Regions from separate parts of the Homo sapiens genome. Here region 1 is linked to region 2. The links come from fine-mapping of genetic effects on gene expression. A gene starts in region 2. The other region holds a variant in brackets. All regions are shown on one strand. Distances are from middle to middle. Region 1 overlaps LIN52 (lin-52 DREAM MuvB core complex component). Region 2 holds the start of LIN52 (lin-52 DREAM MuvB core complex component).

Region 1 (8,333 bases), 120 kb after region 2:
TGTACCTCCAGGACTGCCCTCTCCCCTGCTCCTGGCACTCTACACGTCTGAGGACATTCAGCAGCAAGAGAAGAATCTGCTCTACCCAAGGATCATTGCAGTTACTCAATCAACTTTCAGACTTGAACCTTCTTAGCCTCGGATATTGGTAACAGCTGAGGGCATATCATTCTTAAAGGTCGAAGTCCTGCTTTCTCATTTCTGGAAGTGATTCAGGAGCCCCAGGATCTTACGGTTGATTTGACTCAGTCATGGCAGTCAGTTGTGACATGTTGATTGGATGGGTTCTTTTGAATTGTTCTTGATCTCTTAGAAAGTGTTTACGATGTGAGGAGACCAGAGACCAAGTAGATTCTGGACCAGACCATGCAGCCTGACCTGTGAACTCTCCAGTATATACTAAGTTCCCAGAATCCCCAGCTGAAGAAACCAGAATCTTCTCGAAATGTATATCTGTTTTTTAAAACTTCTATACCTCTTATGATAGTCCCATTTGCTTTTCATTCCTTACTTCCCAGCCCCACCTTCTAGTTCTGACTTCGGGCAGAGGGATCCCTGAGTCCCTCCTGGAATTAGCTTGTATAGTGAAAGGCCCATCCAAGGTTGTCTAAAGACCAATGTGAAGGTGACAGAAAGGACTTTTGAGTTCTAATTAATCTGTTACAGCTTCAAGCAAGAAAGTCAGTATAGCCTGAAAGACAAGAGAAACGGGATGGTTTATAGGAGTTCCCATTTGGTTGAAAGCTAGAAGCCCTAATTGACCTTAAAGTAACATGCTATGGGATGGTGGGATTGTCCCCTCTGACAGCACATATGAAATAGTTCATCTATATAATAGAAACGCACACACACGAAAAAGAATCTTCTGACTTAAATACAACTTTCATGGAGTTCTTCACCACTTATCTGTCTCTGTTAAAATCTGAAAATCTAGCCCATGGCTAAAATCTATTATATGTGTTCTCCATATTTCTTGTATAAGCCAGTCCCCAGCATCTGATGTTTTGAGAAGTGCATGGAGTTTCCTAAACTTTGCACAAAAGAATATCCTGGGGCCGGGCATGGTGGCTCACGCCTGTAATCCCAGCACTTTGGGAGGCCGAGGCAGGTGGATCATAGGTCAAAAGATCGAGACCATCCTGGCCAATATGGTGAAACCCTGTCTCTACTAAAATACAAAAATTAGCTGGGCATGATGGTGCATGCCTATAGTCCCAGCTACTTGGGGGCCTGAGGCACGAGAATCGCTTGAATTCGGGAGGTGGAGGTTGCAGTGAGCCGAAATTATGCCACTGCACTCCAGCCTGGGCAACAGAGTGAGACTCTGTCTCAGAAAAAAAAAAAAAAAAAAAAAAAAAAAAAGAATATCCCTGTGGCAATAGTCTGATGGTGTTTGGACACAAGAAAAGTTATGGTTTTGAGTCGTGAGTGTTTGCTAGGGCATGGCACTCTTCAGTTTAACAGCTGATCCATTAAACCTTTTCTGACATTTGTGCCTTGTTCTCATGCTAGAATTAATGCTGGATTTTTCTCTCATTTGACCATCAATGTAGTTTTACTTATTGAAAGGAAAAAAGACTTAACACAAGATAGGAAAGATGAGTATGAGAAGTAAAACATTCTGCTGGGGTGCTACATAGAAGGTTAGGTTGTAGGGGCTTTGATTTTAATTTAAACTTATTATCGATTGATATTTCTGTATCTCACTAAATGCGGTTGAAGAGTGTGTGTGTGTGTGTGCGCGCGCGCATGTGGCCAAAAAATAGTGCCATAATGTCAAATTCTTCCTTTGCTCTGTTTTTGAGAGTTGATGACATCAGGCACTTTTCAGTGTTTGGGGAAATTGATTGGGATACCTCCCCCAAACCAACTCAAGTCTGTAACTGGAAGCCAGGTGGTTGGTTTTCTGGTCCGCTTTGTCCTCTTTCTTTTACCGTCATCCTATTCACCAGCACTTAATGTAAGTAGATGTTTTAGAATTGCAATATTTATTGGTTTAGTATTTGTCATCCTTAGAAATGTTAATGATGTATTTTTATATTGATAATATAAATTTATGTACAGTATGTGTGTATATGTATTTCAGGATGTTATAGTATTGTACTTTGTATGTGATGGTTTTTGTGTCTTCATAATAAATATGTCCCTTTTACAGGAGGGTGAGTTTTTCCTCAGAGGGCCGAGTTGGATATTTAAAGCACAGACCTCCCCAGAAAGTACAACTGTAATGATAAATAATCTACTGTTTTCCCCCTTAATATACTTAATGGATAGTTGGGGGCTTTACAGTCATCTACTTGGTCTCCTGCCTTCCATTCTATCCTACCACTGCCCAACACCCGAAAGTAGTATTTAGAAACCCTTAATACCTTCCCGTGTCTACTAATAAAGTCTCAATCTCTTGACCCGGCATTTTAAGACTCTCTACATGTAATCCTAAGCAACCCTTCCGTTTCGTTTTCTTCCTCTCCTATATATGAAGTCTCTGTTGCAGTTACTCTGAACAGTTCCCAGTTTCTCACTTGAGTGCCTTTGCTCCTGCCTTTGAGTTCCTAGAAGGTCTTGGATCCCTTTTGCATCTGGCAAACCTATGCTTCCTATAATCTCCTGATGATCCAGCTGGAAATGGTCCTTCCCCTACATTCCTATAGCATTTACCCATATCATCCCTGTGACTCTTACCATAGTCTGCCTTATATTTAAGTGGTCTGAGTACTTTTTCTTTTTGAGACAGAGTCTCACTCTGTTGCCCAGGCTGGAGTGCAGTGGTGCAATTTTGGCTCACTGCAACCTCTGCCTCCCGGGTTCAAGCGATTCTCTGCCTCAGCCACCCTAGTAGCTGGGATTACAGGTGCATGCCACCACGCCCAGCTAATTTTTGTATTTTTAGTAGAGACGGGTTTTTGCCAAGTTGGCCAGGCTGGTCTCGAACTCCTGGCCTCAAGTGATCCTCCCGCCTCGGCCTCCCAAAGTGCTGGGATTACAGGTGTGAGCCACTACGCCTGACACTGAGTACATATCTTATTGCCCTACTAAATTCAAAGCTTCTCAAGGTATAGCTGTCTCCTGCACATCTAGTTCTTCAGTGTCTTTGAACTAGGGGTTCAAAACCTGTTTGCTTGCAGGCTTCTGGTTACACATGATAGATTGAAAACAAGTATTTATCTGCCATCTTCTAAATCCCTTAGTGTGGGTTCCTTTTCAACCATGTTCAAGAACTAGAAAAGAGGAAGTACTCATTATTGCTACTGCTATCACTCATTGATAGTTTACCTGCTCTGGACCAGAATATGCCCTTTTAAAGAAAGCATTTCATTTTAAGGAAAGCAAATTGCTTCTCATCATAGGCCCATCATTTATTTCCAAAAAAGACATCTGGATGAACAGTAGATTTCTGTGATCTAGAAAAGCATGGCTGATTGACTAAGTAGGGACAGTGTTAGGAGTGTTCTAAGTCTTTAGAGACTATTTTTACGGTAAGTAATTGTTTATTATTTGCCTACAGATATTTTTTCCCTTTTCCTTTGCCATTCCAAATACCATCCTGTAAAGCATCTGTCAGCTGTGAGCAGCA[A/G]CATTCTGAAAAGCATAGTATTGGAGCTTGGAGACACATTTGCAAATTCTTATTGACATTTTTTTCTTACCAGCACTCTCATTATTTCTTGCTGTCTTCAGTCTCACAGATTCTAGGCCTCTGCTGATTTGCTTGGCCTGCCTTCCATAGGTTAGAACACTTAAAGTTCACAGGGTATTAATTGTGTTGATATTGAAATGCCATCATTCATTTTTATCTTTCCATTTTTGTCATATTTTTTAAATGGATGCTTGCTAACTGCTCCGTGGTTTTAGTTCTCTAGCTGCTCTTCTGGATGCTCCCAGATCAAGGCAGTGAAAATGGAACTGATGAAAGTCATTCCCTTGTCCCTGTGGCTTCAGAAGTGTGTTTGGACTTCCACAGGAGCTTTGAAATGAAGCCGAGAAATTTCATTTCCAGTGGGATTCCCTGACCCCTCCTGTTTCCTCCAGGATTAAGACATCACAAGAAGGTGAACAGGCAGAGCAGGAAGTGAGGAAATGGACAGTTGGGCCAAGGTGGATGGTCGCAGAAGCCAAATAACACAGTCTCTTACCAGTTCTCAGCTTCTGCACTAACTCCGTCTCCAAGAATTTGGTTATGTTCTCCATTTTCTGTTTTCTTCATCTCGTGAGAGCTACAAGGATACCTGGTCCCTATGTGGGCTTTGTTTCACCAGAGAGTCTTGCAACCCCCAACCCCAGAGAGTGGCAAAGGGTGGTGTCTCCACGGTTGTAAGTTCTGATGGACTGGAACTGATTTTTCCTATCTATGTAGGCTTTTTGGCATTTGGGGTGTGTGTCCTTGTCTATGCCTAAAGAGGCCACTGGCCTTCCCACCCTTTGCCTGGCGCTTTTTCCTCTCGAGCAGCTGGGGGCTTCAGACGATACCAGGTGTAACTGTGAGGCTCCTGGTTGGCGTGAGTGCTGGCAAAGCCTGTTAATTAGCACAGAAACACCCCAGTGCTCCATTAGCTGGGCCAGGCATTTGGAACCTTCCCCTCCTGTGGGCCCCTTCCTCCTAATGAGAGCTGGAAGAAGGGCCCTCACAAAACACTGCCTCAGAATAATATTCTGCTTTGTCCCCACCAGTAACCAGGGCTGACAGGATCACTCTGTCCATTTCTCTTCTAATTAGCACAATTCCAGCATGGCCTGAGCCAGCAAATAGAGAAAAGCGATCAAAAGCGATCGGACAACCGTACCGAATCACAAACACAAAGAGGGCCATTCCCTGTAATTAGGTGAGACAATTCCTCAGTCTTTTCTCGGCTGGAGTTTGCCGCTAAGACTCTTGCTGTTTGGGTCCCAGCAACACAAGTTACATGTCTCCCTGGGACACTAATAAGCCCCAAATTGTCTTCCGCTTCACACAACTCTACCCAGAGGACAGACATGGGGTGGTGGGGCAGGTGGCGGGGAGGGGGTGGGGCAGTGCAGTGAGGGGACGGGTCTCCCAACAAGCAGCTGCTGCAATGTTTCCCCAACTTCAAGAAGCAGACACTGGGGCTGTGGGCAGAGAGGTAAGAGTCAGTTGGCTTGAGAGAACTGCTCTTGGCACAGCCTGGCCCCTGTCACTTGAGCTGGAGTCTGAAGCACTGAGAATTTCTGACCCTCAGGGGAAGCCCCCTCTCAGCTATTTGCCCTACTCTGTTCATTCGCTGCCTCCTGTCTATGGCCCCCTCACTCCTCCCACCTCTGCAGACTGGTAGCATCACTCCAGGAACTACATTGAGCCCTTCACAAACTGTAAGCCCTACACAACTATAGTTACCATTGCAAAGAAAGCTAACACACAGCACGTGAGTGAATTCTGCCCTAGAAGACTGCATGACCTGGAAGGGGCACCCACTGCCCCCCTCACTCTGGCCTTCATTTCTAGCACCCATCACCTTTATGTCCCTGATTGTGTCCCCAACCCCTGCCTACTATCTCCTCTCTCCTGAAAGATCCCTGTTTTTTTAAAACAGAAAAGTGGCCCATCTGCCAGGGCAAGAAGCTGTAACTGGCCGCGCTCCATGTGGCTCAGAGGTTGGTCACTTAATGAACAAAAACAGCTCCCCCAGGATTGCAGCCCATTACGGGGATTACTTGGGGCGATACAGCCGTAAACTTGGTCATAGCCAGGGACAAAGGAATGCAGGGGAGAGTGGCAGTTGGAATCTCAATTAAACCCAAGTTCGGAGCAGAATTGGGCTCACATATTTTCATCTCTCTCTTGCCCTCTGCTTTCTGTCTCGATCTCTATACCTGATGTTTCTGAAAGTGACCTCCAATACCAAAGGAGATTCAGTTATGTAGAATCTGAGGAGCCAAAAAACTCAAGTAATCAGAGTTGCATTGTTTTTCTACCTTCAGTTTTCTGAGGCACAGAGAGGATAATGATAAGATTTGACTTTTAAAAATAACTTTTGGGACATGCCAAAGAATTGATCCAAATTTGTTCAATTTCCTACAGTTTCTTTGGTTATAAACAGAACTACCTGGCACATAATAGGTGCTAAAATAAGCATTTGTTGAAAGAATGAACTGTGCCTTGACATTCGGTGTTCATAGCCTCATTGCTGGTCTAAGATATAGTAAGTGCTTGGATTTTGAGAGAGAGGCAGGGGTGATCTTGTGTAAGTTACTTCTCTCTAAGCCTTGGTTTCCTTAGGACTTTTTCCACTTTAAAGAGTCATATCAGCATCATGGATAAGGGCACAGGCTCTGAAGTCAGGCTGCCTGGGTGCAAATAGCACCTAACTACTAGGGTAGCTGTAGAGATTAAACGAGTATTGCAAAGTGTTGAGAATGGTGCATGGCATATCTTACCCATTACGTATATAATTGCTTGATGGATAGATCTATAAAACAGATTCCATGTAGTATTTAATTTTTTATTATACTCACATTTGTTAAAAATTGACAATCCCTAGGCCGGACATGGTGGCTCACACCTGTAATCCCAGCACTTTGGGAGGCTGAGGCGGGTGGATCACTTGAAGTCAGGAGTTCAAGACCAGCCTGGCCAACATGGCAAAACCCCGTCTCTACTATAAAAAAAAAATGAAAAAATACAAAAAAATTTAGCTGTGCAGGGTGGCAGGTGCCTGTACTCCCAGCTACTCAGGAGGCTGAGGGAAGGGAATTGCTTGAACCTGGGAGGCAGAAGTTGCAGTGATCTGAGATTGCACCACTGCACTCCACACTGGGTGACAGAGTGAGACTGTCTCACACAAAAACAAACGACAAACAAAAAAAACATTGGCAATCCCTATAGGGAAAATATAGTAACTTCTGGTTACCTTGACTAGTCAGTTAAGCAGAATACCATTTCTGTAACCCTTCAGAAGAGCTGACAGTTTACTATTTCTCCTACCCCCATCCTTCCACCCACTGAGGCCCTGTGCCAGCATGGACACTCAGTAGAAACCATTGTTGACTCTACAGACAGTGGCATTAAGCAAGGGAGGGAAAGGTATACTTTGTGACATTGGCAAGTTTCTGAACTGATACTGAACTTGGCATACATAAGCCTCAAATCACTGTACTTTGCTAATCTTTGTAGTCCTAGTATTTTCTGAGCATCCATGCTTTTCCAATCACTGCACAGGAACACACTTCCCTGTTTGATTCAGTCATAACCTCCTACCCCTAACCCACCAGTCCTCCACATTCCTCCAGATAGTTTTCTTTTTCCTTTCCCTTCCCTTCCCTTCCCTCCTTCCCCCACTCCTCCCCCTCCCCCCTCCCTGCCTCCCTCCCTCCCTCCCTTCCTTCCTTCCTTTTTTTGGTGAGACAGGGTCTCCCTCTGTCACCAAGGCTAGAGTGCAGTGGCACGATCTCAGCTCGCTGCAACCTCTGCCTTCTGGGCTCAAGCAGTCCTCCTGCCTCAGCCTCCAAAGTAGTTGGGACCACAAGCACGTGCCACCACATCTGGCTAATTTTTGTATTTTTTGCAGAGATGGGGTTTCGCCATGTTGCCCAGGCTGGTCTCGAACTCCTGGGCTCAAGTGATCCGCCCACCTCCGCCTCCCAAAGTATTGGGATGAGCCACTGTGCCTGGGCCAGATAGTTTTCTATGGTGTGAGATTTGTCAGGTTCTCGCAAACCTGTCAGGTCCCTTTCCAGGACTAAGCAGGGTCCACTCAGGCTTCTGCTCCCGCAGCAGCCTCCTCTGGGCTTTGCCTTCTCTGGGAGCCCATGGAGAGACCCTCGCCTGACTGCAGCCTGAGGCCTCAGGGTCAAGCGAGGCTGAAGGTCACATCCCAGGGCCTTTCTGGACGCAGCCAAGCCCCAGGAGCCAAGCTGGCCTGAGCCAGTGACTTCACACAAAGGAGCAGCTGAGAAGAGTCAAGTTGGGAAAGTCAGTGACTTGAGGCTGAGTAGAAATGAGAAGTGCTGGCTGTGGCAGGACCCATGAAGGATATGTGAGGATTGGAACCAGAAATGATCTCTGAGGAATGGTGGTCGGGGGGCTCATGGGGAAGCAAGGTCCTGCGAGCTGCTTCACCTTGGCCTCCTACTTCCCGCCATCCACCTCTGCTGCTGCTGCCTCTGCCTTCAAGTGGCCCAAAGGCTGTTCAGATGTGCAGCTGTTGAGTAAATCATGGTACATTCCCGTAGCGAACTGCCATGCAGCCATTTGGTGTGTTTGCAAAGAGGTTATGATATCATGGAAGAAATGGTTTTGTCATAAGGATAAGTGAAATGGCCAGATATAACAATTACAGTGGGGTGGTGAATGGAAGGCAATAGGCGAAGGTGGTAATAGTGCT
Region 2 (8,333 bases):
CCAGGGCTGGTTTTGAACTCTTAGCCTCAAGCGATCCTCCTGCCTGGGCCACCCAAAGTGTTGGGATTACAGGCATGAGCCATCACACCCAGCCTACTCTTAAACTTTCTGAATCTAGTTTCCATCCCATAATCAGAGGGTCTTTCTGAAACATAAATCTGGTCAGATTATTCCCTTGTTTAAAATTCTTCTTTGGCTTTCCACTGCCCTTGGAATAAAGACTAATCCCCTTGATGTTGCTTAGAAAACGCTACATAGTATCTTTGCTTTTCTAGTTACATAACTGGCTACTTTCCTCCCTGTTCTCTATGCTCCTGCAATTTAACGTGTGTCTTGCTTTCTTTGCTCTTGCACATGCTGCTCTCTCTTGCCTGGCACTGTTTCATCTAATTTCCTTGGCTCATTCCTACTCCTTTAGGTCCCCACTCAGCCATCATCACTTTCTCTAGGAAGTCTCAACCTCAGGTCTATGGTAAGCAGCTGATTGTGAAGCTCATAAAGCACCCAAATTCCTTTATTTCTCATCTCACGCTATGAAATAATAGCTTGTCTAATGATTAACTTTCTCTCCTTTGAGGTCACTAGATTGTTGTGTCCCCAGCCCCTAGCACAATTCCTGGAAGAGAGTAAGTACTTAGTAAGCAATATTTTGCACAATGAAAGAATGAGTACTCGCCAAGCAATCATTTGATATTGTTTCAGTACTCTCAAGTTGGCAGACAATGCACTGATCAGCCAACTTGAGCATTCTAGGCCACTTAAATTTTATTTTTTCACTTGTATACAGCCTCCCTGCTGTTAAGAGGATGTAAAAAGCACTACATCTGGTATAATAGAACATATTCATATAGTTTTTTGACAGGTTCGATCTTCTATCTTTTCTTCATTTCCTAAGAAACACCCATTAGCATTGTTGCTGAAGAAACTATCCTGTGGCCAGTCACCCCAAACTGCTGCTCTCTAGATGTTTACTTCCTACTTGCTATATCCTTTATAAGGAACTCCTTCCTCTCCTGGTTCATGGCCTGCTAGTCCTGCAATACTTGGCTCTTTCCCTAGGTCCCCACAGTATCCCAGATACTCCTATTGTTTATCACTTATTGCAGTACAATAAAGGAGCTTTCAGTGAGCATTTTACTGTAAGCCTATGTCAGTGCCTAACATAGAAAGAGATGGCAAGACTTAAGTTCTGAATTTTCAGCCCCATCAGTTACTAGTTCGGTAACCATATCACCGACAGTGCAAGTCGCTACATCTCTTCAAGAGTAATTTTCTTGCCCAGGTGCAGCGGTTCGTGCCTGTAGTCCCAACACTTTGGGAGGCTGAGGTGGGAGGATAGCTTGAGTTTAAGAGTTCAAGACCAGCCTGGGCAACATGGTGAAACCCTGTCTCTACAAAAAATACAAAAATTAGCTGGCATGGGGGCACGATCTGTTGTTGCAGCTACTCGGAGGGCTGAGATGGAAGAATCACTTCAGCGTGGGAGGTCGAGGCTGCTGTGAGTTGTGATTGCACCACTGCACTCCAGCCTGGGTGACAGAGCGAGACCCTGTCTCGAACATTCCTTTATCTCTGCATGGGAGTGATAATATCACAAGGAGCAGAGAGAGGTTTTAGGTTAAGTTTGACTACTCTTCGTGGCAGAGAAAAATAAGCTGAATACTTAAAATAATTGAAAACATTAACTTTCTCCTCTATAAATCCTTTTGATAGTTCTCTAATATTCATGGCTGCCAAAATCGAGGTTTTTTTTTTTTTTTTTTTTTTTTTTGATGGAGTCTTGCTCTGTCGCCCAGGCTGGAGTGCAATGGCACGATCTCAGCTCACTGCAACCTCCGTCTTCCGGGTTCAAGCGATTCTCCTGCCTCAACTTCCTGAGTAGCTGGGATTACAGTCGCCCGCCACCACACCCGGCTAATTTTTGTATTTTTAGTAGAGAAGGGGTTTTACCATGTTGGTCAGGCTGGTCTCGAACTCCTGACCTCAGGTGATCCACCCACCTTGGCCTCCCAAAGTGCAGGGATTACAGGCAGGAGCTACAGCGCCTGGCCCGTAGGCTACTTTTTATCGAACTTTTAATCAAAGATTCACGTTACAACTCCTAGTTGGCTGAGGATTACTCTATCTGTTCTTTTCCAGGTCACTTCAGAAGTTTCTCCAAATGAATCAGAAAATACATAGTGTCTGTTTCTGAAATAAAAGTACATGGAAAGAGAGATTCTTCTCCTTGATGGAAAAGGACAAAATACTTTCTTAAGGTTCTCAATGACTCATTGTGATGGGAGGGGAAGAGGAGGCAAAGGAAAAAAGCCAATTTCAGTAAAAGATTTCAAGAAGTTGGTAAGAAAAATATAGGGTGGAAACTTTGTTTTCCTGCTACTAAAAAAAGATACTAGAACAGAACAAGGATCGCAGCAAGAAATATGAGTGAGGCCAGACCATCTGCCAAACCCTTCAAACTCATCCTTTCTACCTTCCCCATTAAATAGCATATTTAAAAATGAATCTTTGCTGACTCTGCCAAGAATCTTAAAACTGCCCAAGTTTCTTTACTAGAACTCACGGAAACCTGGTGAATACTAATATTACCTAAAAGCTCAGCAATATAGAGGAAATTCTCAGACTGGATGTAATGAATAAGAACGGCACTGTTGTTTCTTGCAGACTGTTTCTTGCCTGCGGTAAATCTTGCCACATACTCTAAATCCTTGGTAGGCCATGAACAGGGGAAAGACTATAAACAGAGTTGGAGATTACAGGCCTCAGGCATGCAACTCCTGTAGCTTTACCATTTCTCCTTAGGTTGGCTTCAGAGAGGACTCAATCCCCCAAGTGCAGAGATGAGGGTGTGTAGCACTAGAAGAGCTGATTTTGGGGTGGGAACTTAGACTTCTTGTCTTACCTGGCTCCCACTTTCTATCACCCGTTTTAAAGATGTTTGGTACCTTGAACATACATGGAACATACTGGTAGCTTTAACTGTGTGCCCTTATCTACCCTATCTATGTAGATGTGCCCTATCTATGTAAACTGTAACTTAGCTGAGAAAAAGTTTAACTCAAAGTTTTGGCAAGAAAGGGGACAGCCAGTCCATGGAAAATACAAAGAGCCACACTTAGGGAAAATAGCTTAGCAAATGGCTGCCTTTGGTGAAAATCTAGAGTCCACCTCTAGAAGGAAATTCAAAGTTCATACACTGACCCTCGCCCCTCGCGTCCCCCCTCCCCCTTACCTCAGATCACCACGGATAGTGAAGTAGGGTGGGGGAAGGGAGCAATGGCAAAGTGGACGCTCACGGCAGGGGACAGAGTAACCAAAAAGAGTAGTTTCTGGGGGAGAGAGAGAAGGCTGGTGCAGAGGTAAAAAGGAAAGACGGTGGGCGGATGGAGAGATGAGGGCAAGAGAGTGACAGCAGGGAGCGGGCAGAGCTGGAGAAGGAGAGTGGGCGAGAGCCAGAAAAGAGGAGGCTTAGGAGTAAAAGGGTAGAGGGCCAAGGGTAACAGCCCAGGGTTGGATCCGGGACCAGGGAGGTTATGAAGTGAGGGCTGGGCATGGGACAGGGCCGCACAGGTCGGGTAGGAGGTCTGGCCAAAAAGGGGTTGGGCCAAGAAGGTGGTCCCGCCCGAGGATGGCTCAGGGAGCGGACGGAAAGGATCCAATTCCTAGCTTCATGGTGCCTTGGCACCACCCTCACTCGCCTGCAGGATCCGGGCTCGCACTGCCGCCGCCGCCAATAGCGCCGCCATGGCTCTCGGCCGCCCTAGCTCCGCACCCCGCGCCTCTACTGCCCAGAAGCACTACAGCTGCCAGGCCTCGCCCTCCATCCTGCCAGGCTTCCTCATTGGTGGGGAGGACTATTTTCTCCAGCCAATCACTGGTCCGAACACCTGATTCCTCTCCTCACACCCCCGTCCTGGGGATAAGTGATTGGTTAGGAGCGAAAATGCTCTCGCCCTCTGCCACCTCAGCCAATGACGTAGGCGGAGGTAGAGAAGACGCCCCTGACTTGGACACTCCCTACCGAGCACACGGGGAAGACGCCCCCCTAACCTGGAACTCCGATTGGCCAAGGGCGGAACCGAGGCCCCACCCCCCCACTGAAAAAAGTAAATAAGACCCTTCAAGAATTTTGCAGTCGCTCCACCTCAACATCCGCGTAAGGGGCGTGGCTATACTTAGGGGCGGGGCTAGGCAAAGATTGCCCTATGAGGCGAGGGAATGAGACTGGGCTGCGAGTTGGGGATAGGGTTTCTCTTTGGGGGCGTGGCTTATGGAACCTCGTTTTCCCGCCGACGGTTGGCCACGTCACGTGACATGGGTTGGAAGATGGCGTCTCCCACAGACGGTAAGAGCCGGCTTAGAGATCTTTGCCTGCAGCCTCCTTCTTTGCTCTACTGGGAACATCCACTCTGTCTCTGCCCCTCGAACATACATTTCTTTCTTGGGCTCTTCTCCTTTCCCTTTTATTTTTTTTCTTGAGATCCATCGCCGTCTTCAGCTCACCGGTTCTTCACAGCAGCTCCGGAGGTGCCCAGTTTCCCCGCTCTGTACCAGGCGTGTGGAGGAGGGCACTAGGGAGGGACTCATTCTGGGTAAAAGGACAGGGGGGTCGCCCTGTGCCTTCCTTATCTCTATTTGGGCGAGGCTGAGGGTCGAGGAGGAGATGTTTCTGGAGGACGTGGCTTACTGTAGTTTTTTCCTTGGGGTACCCATTGAAAGGATCAGTTCTCTTCTGATTGAGCGCACGGATGGAATGATTCTCACAAACCCTCGCAGGGCTGCTGGCTGACCTCATCTCGATACTGAACCGCAAGAGAAACATGATCTCTCTCCTGTCTCCTCAGTTTGGGACCATTGCCGTGGCAGCAAGAGAAGCGGGGGACGTTCTCGGCCCCTCGCCCTGAGAGTCGCGAGGAGAATCAGTATTGAGCTTTTAAGTGTCGTCTTGCACAGGTCGCAACCTGTCTTCCATCTGCTTTACGTGTTGTTTCTTAAGGCTGAGTGAATTAACGATTTCTGTTTATATATTGTGTAAAATGCAAGTCATTTCAAGTAACAATTAAGTTGTTTTGGTATACTCCCATGCTTTTCCTCTTGGTTCTGCTTTAGAGAGTTAGGGTCTTGCAGTCATTTTTAAACTCATTTTTAGTTCTACCATCCTCATCCCAACTATATATCGATTTTATTGATATATAGGTTTCCTTCCCTTAGACAAAAACATTTTATATTTGGAAGGAATCTTGGAAGTTCATTGCAGGAATGAAGAAATTGAAGCCAAGGTGAGCTATATTAAGTACCTGCTACATGAAAGGCATAATGCTAGGTGCTTTGGGAGACCAAAAGATGACTCAAACATATAAACATTTTTTTTTTTCAGTTTCAGTTCTCTTTTTAGATGTCACCTCCCAAAGAGTCTTTCTTAGAACACAGTATCTGGAGTTGCCCTTTCCCACCATTATTCATTATCTCAGTATCTTCCTTGTCAGCATAGTTACTCTGTTAACTTTGCCCCTTTTGCGCTAGATTGTAAATTCCAAGTTTGTCTTGTTCATAGTTGGATCCAGGTTTAGCACAGTGCCTGACGAACAGTAGGTCTTTAATTAACATTTATTGAAAGATTGATTAGATATATGCAGAAATAATATATTACTTGATCTTAAGTTTTAAGTTTAACCGAGTCTTAAATTTTGTGAGCGCAGGTACATACTGTATTAGAAATTATGGCTGGGCGTGGTGGTTCACACTTCTAATCCCAGCACTTTGGGAGGCTGAGGCAGGCAGATCGCCTGAGCTCAGGAATTGAAGACCAGCCTAGACAACATGGTGAAACCCCATCTCTACAAAAAAATACAAAAATTATCTGGGTGTGATGCCACAAACCTGTAGTCCCAGCTACTTGGGGGGGCTGAGGCAAGAGAATCTCTTGAGCCCAGGGGGTGGAGGCGGCAGTGAACCATGTTCATGCCACTGCACTCCAGTCTGTGTGACAAAGCGAGACCCCGTCTCAGAAAAAAAAGAAGGAAAAAAAAAGAAATTATGGATGTTTGGAGTCAAAAGAGATTCTCCTGCCTGGGTGCGCTCTTGCAAAAATGTCCTTCTCTTGCCAGAAAGAAGGGCATTTAAAAAGTCAGGCAAGGGAATAGGGAGTTATTGTTAATGGGTACCAAATTTCAGTTTGGGAAGGTGAAAGAATTCTGGAAATGAATGTGATGATTGCACAATTAATGTACTTAATACCACTGAAATGTATACTTAAAAGTTATTAAAATGGTAAAATTTATGTATATTTCACCACAGTTGAAAAAAAAAGCCAAGTAATACAAGTAGAAGTAATTGTTATTAAACTTTTTAGTTTATTTTTAAATTGTTTTTACAAACTTTGGGGATTTTAGAGATGTGTTCCTTGAGTTTGATTTTTTTCCCCTGTCATCTCTCAATTTAGTTTCCTTTCTTTGGCCAGGAAGAGTATTAAAAACATTAAATTTGGCTTGGCGTGGTGGCTCACGCCTGTAATCCCAGCACTTTGGGAGGGCGAGATGGGTGGATCACGAGGTCAGGAGATCGAGACCATCCTGGCTAACACAGTGAAACCCTGTCTCTACTAAAAAATACAAAAAATTAGCCAGGCGTGGTGGTGGGTGCCTGTAGTCCCAGCTACTCAGGAGGCTGAGGCAGGAGAATGGCGTGAACCCGGGAGGCAGAGCTTGCAGTGAGCCGAGATCACGCCACTGCACTCCAGCCTGGGACAGAGCGAGACTCCATTGCAAAAAAAAAAAAAAAAAAAAAAATTAAATTTTTTTCCTTTTCTAGCCATCTCTATGGTCACTTTATTTGCACTCTTGATTTTTAAGTTTTCATTCTCATCTCTTACAAAGTTTCACTCCTCTCCACCTAATGTTTTCTTTTTAATCTGAAAAAATCAAGTCAAGCACTTTGAACTTAAATTCAGCTTCTAAATAAGTATCTCATTCCAAAATATTCCACGGCCTAGCTCTTTCACTTCTATTTTTAGTGTTCCACCTGTCACTGTCTTTAAAATTTAATTCAGATAATATTTATTTTAATATGTTTGTCATTTACTCTTTTGTCTTTTTCGTGATAAATTTGCTGGAGCGTCTTTGAAAAGGAGAAAACTGAAATTCAAATACAGCCATCTAATTACTTAATTTATGAGAGTAAGACTCACAGCAGAGTCTGAGTTCTATCCCAGACTGTGGTATCATAAGGTCACCCATGTAGGTTATTAGATTGTACCCCCAATAATTTTTTTTTAACTTTCTTTTAGAGACAGGGTCTCTCTCACTCTATTGCCCATGCTGAAATGCAGTGATATGATTATAGCTCACTGCACCCTCAAAGGCTCAAGCGATTCTCCCATCTCAGCCTCCTAAGTAGCTGGTACTATAGGCTCACACCACCATGCCCAGCTAATTTATTATTATTATTATTTATTTTGTTTTGAGACGGAGTCTCACTCTGTCACCCAGGCTGGAGTGCTGTGGCATGATCTCGGGTCACTGCAACCTCCGCCTCCTGGGTTCAAGTAATTCTCATGCATCAGCCTCTCCAGTAGCTGGGATAACAGGCACACGCCACCACACCTGGCTAATTTTTGTATTTTGAGTAGAGACGGGGTTTCACCATGTTGCCCAGGCTAGTCTTGAACTCCTGACCTCAGGTGATGCACTCACCTCGGCCTCCCAAAGTGCTAGGATTACAGGCGTGAGCCACCATGCCCCCACCTTATTATTTTTTGTAGAGATGGAGTCTCACTATGTTGCCCAGGATGGTCTCAAACTCCTGGGCTCAAGCAATCTTCCTGCCTCGGCTTCCCAAAGCACTGGGATTCCAGACATGAGCCACTGTACCTGGCCCAATAACTTTACTTTTGTTATGGTTGAACATTCCTCAGAAATCGGTAACAAAGAGAAGCTAATTTTTGGATGCTTTAATTAAGGCAATGTATTAGTTGAGTTCTTTACAATTAAAATGCCATTGGAAATTCCTTTGGAATATTTGGCAAAACAAATTCAGTTTAGAGAAAAGTACATTTTGTACGTATGTATATTTTCTGGGGAGTGAGTTCATTTTATTTCCCAGATTTCCAGAGATGTGGTTACCCAGAAAATGTTAAGAACTGCTGTTTATAGCATTAAATGAACTAGTTATGCAACTGGTTAGCATACTGAGCATACAATAAAAACTCAACAAATGTTAATATTGAGTACTACTGTGTGCAAGGGAAGAGTGGAAGAGAAATGATGTCAAAGAATTAGGTAGAGGCTGAGTAAGATTTTATAGAGTGTGGTAGATACACATTCACAGATTTAGCT

What was found.
Region 1: its variant is fine-mapped to the expression of LIN52 in whole blood (INTERVAL, PIP above 0.99). The same link has a PIP of 0.9 or more in blood mononuclear cells.

The regions. Positions count from the first base shown.
Region 1 is chr14:74,199,082-74,207,414 of GRCh38, forward strand. It overlaps LIN52 (lin-52 DREAM MuvB core complex component), which reads left to right. Exons shown (of 6, transcript NM_001024674.3): 6 at 1-2,412. Among named protein-coding and RNA genes, the nearest start is that of VSX2, 36 kb to the right of the region's middle. RefSeq lists a silencer at 3,092-3,292. The variant A/G (reference allele first, on the strand shown) is at 3,575.
Region 2 is chr14:74,080,649-74,088,981 of GRCh38, forward strand. It overlaps LIN52 (lin-52 DREAM MuvB core complex component), which reads left to right and starts at 4,308. Exons shown (of 6, transcript NM_001024674.3): 1 at 4,308-4,345. The coding sequence starts at 4,327. ALDH6A1 (aldehyde dehydrogenase 6 family member A1) reads right to left here and starts at 3,805. Exons shown (of 12, transcript NM_005589.4): 1 at 3,699-3,805. The coding sequence starts at 3,746. It also overlaps a transcript of BBOF1 not described here. RefSeq lists enhancers at 4,217-4,396, 5,337-5,426.